2 linked regions of the Homo sapiens genome follow. The protein of the gene in region 1 interacts with the protein of each later gene in a pairwise test. Each region holds a gene or a part of one and is shown on either strand. Other genes may lie near its edges.

Evidence for each region.
Region 2: the proteins of ODF2 (region 1) and SVIL interact in a two-hybrid assay, tested with the Homo sapiens proteins (one study listed by BioGRID).

What each region holds. Positions count from the first base shown.
Region 1 is NC_000009.12:128,469,506-128,473,005, reverse strand, and holds part of ODF2 (outer dense fiber protein 2), read right to left. Parts: intron 1,699-3,500; coding exon 1,538-1,698; intron 94-1,537; coding exon 1-93. UniProt on the Homo sapiens protein: Seems to be a major component of sperm tail outer dense fibers (ODF).
Region 2 is NC_000010.11:29,519,676-29,523,695, forward strand, and holds part of SVIL (supervillin), read right to left. Parts: coding exon 3,776-4,020; intron 2,961-3,775; coding exon 2,735-2,960; intron 1-2,734.

The sequences.
Region 1 (3,500 bases):
ACCTGCTTGGCAGCCGCAGCCCCATCCATTTCCGCCTCCACCAGCTTGGACATGAGGCACTCCTTCTCCTGTTGTAGGTGTTTCTTCTGAAGTCTGGGGCCAGAAAGACGGCTCTGTGAGCCCTCCCAGGCCCCCGCATGCCCAGAGATCCAAGGCTTGCCTCACAATGCCCTAGGGGGCTCACCTCTGGTCAGGGAAAAGTAGGGGAGGGGGCAGGGACAGCCCTTCTGGCCTGGGTGGCCTTCAGAAAGGACCAGGGCCAGAAGTTACATCTGCCTGGGCACCAGACCAGGGCCTCCACACCAGGAGACATTAGCTACCTGTGGCCCTGTTTCTCTCAAACAGCCACCATTGTCATCTCTGCACTGCCCCCCTCCACTGTCACGCCCTCCTACGCACCATCTTCAGATACGATTTTGAGCCCTTCTACCTCTTCTCTACACTGCAGCCAAGGCTAGTCAGGCCACCTCCCTGCTTTTAAAACTTCCATGGCTGTAGGCTGGATACAGTGGCTAAAGCCTGTAATCCCAGCACTTTGGGAAGCCGAGGTGGGCAGATCACTTGAGATCAGGTGTTATCGAGAGCAGCCTGGCCAACAGCTAAAACCCCATCTCTACTAAAAATACAAAAGTTAGCCGGGCATGGTAGTGGGCACCTGTAATTCCAGTTACTTGGGAGGCTGAGGCAGGAGGATTACTTTAGTCAAGGAGGCGGACATTGCAGTGAGCCAGGATCACGCCACTGCACTCCAGCCTGGATGACAGAGCGAGACTCCATCTCAAAAATTTTGAGATGCCTCCCAGGATCAAGCAGTTCTCCTGCCTCAGCCTCCAGAGTAGCTAGGATTATAGGCGCCCGCCGCGACGCCCGGCTTAATTTTTGTATTTTTAGTAGAGACAGGGTTTCACCATGTTGGCCAGGCTGGTCTCGAACTCCTGACCTTGTGATTTGCCCGCCTTGGCTCCCAAAGGGCTGGGATTACAGGCGTGAGCCACCACGCCCGGCCAAATAAATTAATTAAATAAAATAAATCCTTTCCATGGCTTCCAAATGCCCTCAATGCAAATGCCTCAAAGTGGCTGCTGAGAGCCAGCCCCCTGCCAACCTATGTGGCCCCCTTATCCTCTGCCCACCCACTCTGGCCTGCCTTCCATTTCTCAGCTACAAACACTTTCCCACCTTGGGGCCTTCGCATAAGATGTTCCCACTGAGTAGCGTGCTTTCTTCCCTAGCACCCACCTGCCGAATGCTTAACCATCCTGCAGGACACCCCTTAAATATCACTTGTTCCAGAAACAGTTCCCTGCTACCCAGTCCCACACCACAATCCACGGGGTCCTCCCTTTCCCTCATAGTACAAATCATAAGCACAACCAGGTAATTAACTGTAATTAATTGTGTGACTGTTGAACAGGCTCCAGGGCACAGGCACAGTGCCTGTGCCCACCTCCTACGTTGCTTTCCATTATTGCCCAGGGCTCAAGGCAGCCTGGTAGGGAGGAATAGATCAGCGGGGACAGAGCAGGAGCCACCTTACATGGTGAAGTCCTTCTCCTCCTTCATGCGCTCGATGTTGTGCCTCAACACCGTGTTCTCGTGCTCAGTCTCAGCCAGTTCGTGGGCCACCTCCTCCAGCTCTTCCTTCCGTTCCTCCAGGAACCTTTTGGCCATCTGGCGCTCACCTTTTTGCATCTTGACCTGAGCAGGGGGACCCAGGCAGGGGCCACTGAAGGGAGGTCCTTCCTCTATGCCACATTGCTAGGCTCAATGCTTTGGACCAAAATAAGGCCCCGGCCGGGCGTGGTGGCTCACGCCTGTAATCCCAGCACTTTGGGAGGCCAAGGTGGGTAGGTCACTTTTGGTCAGGAGTTCGAGACCAGCCTGACCAACATGGTGAAACCCCATCTCTACTGAAAATACAAAAATTAGCCAGATGTGGTGGCACATGCCTGTGATCCCAGCTACTCTGGAAGCTGAAGCAAGAGAGTCGCCTGAACCCAGGAGCCAGAGGTTGCAGTGAGCCGAGATCGTGCCCACTGCACTCCAGCCTGGGCGGACAAGAGTGAGACTCCATCTCAAAAAAAAAAAAACAAAAACAAAAAAATAAGGAGCCTTCCAATTGAGAACTACACAGGCTGCATGCCAGGGCCTTATGGGTGCAATCTCAGTTAACTGCCATGAAGACTGACTCTCCTGGGAGATGCTGATTTTCTTTTTGTAGATGAGGAAACTCAGTACAGAGAGCCCCAGTGACTTGTGGGTTGGGAACGAAGCCAGGTTGCAAACCGTGGTTTGGCTGGCACACCATAGGAGGAGAGATGTCACAAAAAGGCTCTTGCACTTTGAGTTATAGGGGAAGAAGGGCTTTTTTTTTTTTTCTTTTGAAACAGGGTCTCACTCTGTCATCCAGGCTGGAGTGCAGCGGTACGATCTCAGCTCACTGCAACCTCTGCCTCCTGGGTTCAAGTGATTCTTCTGCCTCAGCCTCCCAAGTAGCCGGGATTACAGGCGTGTGCCTGGCAAATTTTTGTATTTTTAGTAGAGATGGGGTTTCACCATGTTGGCCAGGCTGGTCTTGAACTCCTGACCTCAAGTGATCTGCCCTCCTCAGTCTCCCAAAGTGCTAGGATTATAGGCATGAGCCACCACGCCTGGCCAAGAAGGGCCTATTCTAGGCAGCCAGCCCTAGGTTCTCCAGGAGGTTCCCTGGACCTCGAGTACAGGGTGGAGGATTAAAGACACAGGTCGTGTTAGCAGTGAAGACATAGGCTGACATAGCAATCCAAGTCTAAGGCCTGGATTTTAATGACAACTCTGCCAATTTCCTAGTTGGGGACCTTGGACTTCCAGGTTCTATTTCCAATTCCATTGTCACATCCCACCCCAAGAGAGAGCACGGCAACTGAGGACAAACTTCCTTGGCCTCTTTGGGGCTTTGTTTTTGTTAATTTTTTTATTTATATATATATATATATATATATATATATTTTTTTTTTTTTTTTTTTTTTTTTTTTTTTTTTTTGAGACAGAGACTCTCTCTGTCGCCCAGGCTACAGTGCAATGGCACAATCTCAGCTCACTGCAACCTCTGGCTCCTGGGTTCAAGCAATTCTACCACCTCAGCCTCCTGAGCAGCTGAGACTACAGGTGCACGCCACCACGCATGGCTAATTTTTGTTTTTTAGTAGAGACAGGGTTTCACCGTGTTGGTCAGGCTGGTCTCGAACTCCTGACCTCAGGGGATCCGCCTCCCAAAGTGCTGGGATTACAGGCGTGAGCCACCATGCCCGGCCTGTTTTTGTTAAACCTTATATAAAGCGGAAGGCATAGGCCCTAGTTTCCTAGGTATTTCATCTCTGTAATGAGGACAGTAACACCACTGGCTTCACATGCTGTTGTAAAAATTCAAATTGGACCACCCATGTGGAGCACCAGGACAGCTACATGCTCAATAGAGAGGGCCCTTGTTGGTGGGATGGGATCCCATGCTGCCCCAGCTA
Region 2 (4,020 bases), on another chromosome or scaffold:
GTGTAATTTATTACAAGCATAGCTGCTAAATAAAGTGTCCCTTGTTCTTTCATAAATGTATTTTAACAAACTGAATAGCTGAATATCAATCAAGCATTCCTTTCTATCATGATTCTGAACAGACTGGGCTCAGGGATCTCTTGGAGACCATGATAAGTTATGGCTTCTGTTAGCCAGCAGGTGTGTGTGCTCACCCATTCAATTCTGAATACACTTCCGGGCTGTTCACAGAAACTTTACAGCCATCCTTGAACGCCTTACATGTCCACAAAGCCCAAGCTAAGAAGCTACGTCTTTCCAGTATCTCACTTTTAAAAATGAGAATTTTACAGTAGGATTAAAGCTTTCAGAAAAATACAGGTCAACTAAAATTTACCAAAAAACAGGTAAGTAAATCAGGAATTATTGCTTAGTGGATAGACACAGGACTTCTTCATCAAAAGTCCTAAGTCCAGATGGACAGAATATTCCCAAAGATGGGAAGGCTCCTTTAAAAGCCTTTGAAAGAAGGGGGCATAATATTAGTATTTCCCACTGGGGAATACCCCAGGGATATTTTCTCATGTGTAAAACATCAGAACTTGTGTATAAGTGATATTTATTGTTAATTTCCTTAAATGATCTCTCTTCTTCCTCACCTAACCAGTTGTCAATATTTGGGTTTCTGGGATGAAACTCTCTTTGAGCCCCATTTTCGTGGAAGAGAACTTCAAGCCTCAATAGGCCCAACTGCTTCCCCGATTGAAGACATCCCTCTCCTCATTGCACTGTCCCCTCTGCCCCTTCCCTATGCCCCTCAGCCTGCCAGGTCTAACTTATCATGAATTTTAAGTAAGTAAAGGAGAAAGTAAGTCAGATTTAACAATGTGATTAATTTGTCAGTTGAAAAAGATAGCATCTATTATTTTACAAATAATGTTCAAGAAGCTTGGCTTAAAACTAGAAAGAAGGGCCAGGTGTGGTGGTGCATGTCTGTAATCCCCGCACTTTGGAAGGCTGAGGTGGGAGGACTGTTTGAGGCCAGGAGTTCGAGACCAGCCTGGGCAACATGGTGAGACCTCCCAACTCTACAAAAAATCTTTTTGAAAAAATTAGCCAGGCATGGTGGTACGTGTCTGCAGTCCCAGCTACTGGGGAGGCCGAGGCAGGAGGATCACTTGTGTCCAGGAGTTCGAGGCTGCAGTGAAGCTGTGACAGCACCATTGCACTCTAGTCTGGGCAACAGAGGAAGACCATTCCTCTAAAAAAAAAAAAAAAGAAAGAAGGGGCCAGGCACGGTGGCTCACGCCTGTAATCCCAGCACTTTGGGAGGCCGAGGCAGGCGGATCAGGAGGTCAGGAGATCGAGATCATCCTAGCTAACACGGTGAAGCCCCAACTCTACTAAAAATACAAAAAATTAGCTGGGTGTGGTGGTGTGCGTCTGTAGTCCCAGCCACTTGGGAGGCTGAGGCAGGAGAATCGCTTGAACCCGGGAGGCAGAGGTTGCAGTAAGCCAAGATCATCCCATTGCACTCCAGCCTGGGTGACAAAGCAAGACTTAGTCTCAAAAAGAAAAAAAAAAAAAAAAGGAAAGAAGGAAAAGAAAGAAAGAAGACTTTTCATTGTGGTTTAGTATAGTCTTAGGCAGTTTGAAATGTATCTAGAAAAATAAGAGTGGTCAGTGAAGCCTGCAGACTTCCGTGTGGTGGGAGGTGCTGAGGAAGGGTGGAGGTTGGCAGAACTGTGGGAACAGGCGATGGAAATGGTTCTCCTAATATGGAGTTGACAAGATTTTTCTTCACCCAGTTTTCCTATCAACTATTCCATCATGTTTTTTTCCTACTGAATACTTTCTCCTTTTTTTGTACAAATTTATGTGGTGCATGAGAAATTTTGTTACACATATAAAATGCATAGTGATCAAGCCTCTATTTAGAATGTCCATCACCTCAGTACAATACGTTTTTATTTAGTCACCCTACTCTGCTATCAAACTCTGAATTTATTCCCACTATTGCATCTTTTGCTGCTTAATTCATCTGTGGTTAAGGGTTAACAAGGAAAACACATCCCCAAGGTAATTTACTTCCAGTTCTCTGTATCTGTCTAATTTAAATATATTCCTCTGCACCCTACGTCATTCTTTTGAAAGAAATTAGGCTACTGTGTTATTTGATGCTGAAATGCAATCTTTCAAGCTATTACCTGACATACAATTTCTAAATGCAGTTCAGAAAAGTCATCCATTTTACAATCTGTAAAAGAAACAAAACTTGGATTCTAAGTCCAAAGATATATGCCCTCTATGTAAATTTATCTTCACTCCCTCTACACATATTTTACACAAAGTCACAAGTGGTTTGTGCATTCAGTATGAACCCTGTGTATCTAAAAGGGGAAGAGCCAAGATTTCAGCTCCTGTCATTAGATAGTCCAAGAATTTAATATTATAAAAGATATTGGGACAGTGGAAACAAATAAATAAAACAGAAGTCTGTTTCTGTTTGTTTTCTCATCTGAGTCTGGAACCAGCCCTGTCCAAACCAGGCTCATTACCAAACCAGGCTCATGAGCAAAGGCAGTTCACTCTCAAACACCTCAGCTTCCTAGAATTACTCCAGGACAACAGCACAGTCCTGTTAGAAGCTGAATGTATGATTTCATCTCTTTGCCCATCACCGAGATTGTTTTCTAAAAGCAAGCTGTAAGCTCCTCCCCGAGAGAATTACTTTTCGCTCACCGAATCTCATTACCTTTCTTTAATAGACATGGTTTTGCTGGGTGAGTCAAGAAGGCCCTCCCCTGTCGGCGTTTTGATCTCTCCAGCAGCAAACATCGCACATGGATTCTTGCAGAGCTTCTCCTGTGGCTGTTCCGAAGAATCCTGGGGCTTCCAGGACACGGGGGCTGTGGTTTGAGCAATAGTTTTCCCAGCAGCTGTCCCCGTCTGCTCGGAAGTGGGCTCCCCGAACTCTGCCGCTGGGAAGGAAAAGAGCAACATCAGCACTGAACTCCTCAGGCAAACATTCTTCCAGCGATTCGCCCTCAACAGTGCAGCTCTCAGGGTTCAATCCGTGGGCACACGGCGGGTGACCCAATCCACTGGGATTTATGCAAATCTGCAGCACGCTACACTCTGTGAGAAAACCAAACTTCCTGGAGGGTTACCCACACAGCAAAATGCTTCGTGGCAATTGGTTTCTCTCCTGTGTGCGAGACACAGGAAGTCAGCTTTAACTATTTACTCCAGAATGGTTCTATTCTCCAAAATAATACCTTAACATTCAAATGTGCTATACTCACAAACGCAAACCCCTATTATAACTTACACTGTACTGTTTCATACAAACGTAGAAAGAGGATGAAGGGCCCACGCAGTGTAGCTTGCTAGCCTGCAAAACAGGCATGCAGGAAGAAGCACTCTAGCGATTCAGAGACTGGGGTCAAGTCTTTCCTGAATTCCTTGTGCTTACCCAGCCTGGACCTTTGGGGTCATCAATTTCTAAAAGGGGCCACCAGAACTAAGCAGCTCAGAAGGCCATTGTGTGAGTGACCAAAGTCAACAGAAACTCCATGAAGATGTGTGAAAGCTCTTCCAGTAGTTTTATTGCTGAAAACTTGATGTATCCTCTAGTCAGATCCAGGGAAGAATAGGATTCCCGCTGAACTTTTAACCAATACTAGCTGTAAACTGCCTATAGAACTTTGTTAAAAGCCATCATAGACACAGGACAAATCAAGCAGAAACTAAAACCCAGTGGCTTTCTAAAGCTTTAGGGGCACTGGTCACTTACCTCTTAGTGAAAACTTCCTTTTCATAACATTCTCCACCTCCACCTTCTCTTCAAAGGGCAGCCTGTCCCTCAAGTCCAAGTTTCCTTGTGCATTCATTTTAGCCATGGAAAATTCCTTCGGTTCATCCCCGAGGTGGGTGATGGGAGGGTTCGCCCGTTCCAGGCTTCCTCTTCTGGGAACAGCATATTTAGATTCCTTATGGCTGTCTCCTTCCCTGGCTCGGTTCAGGATGGGGTAGGATGCT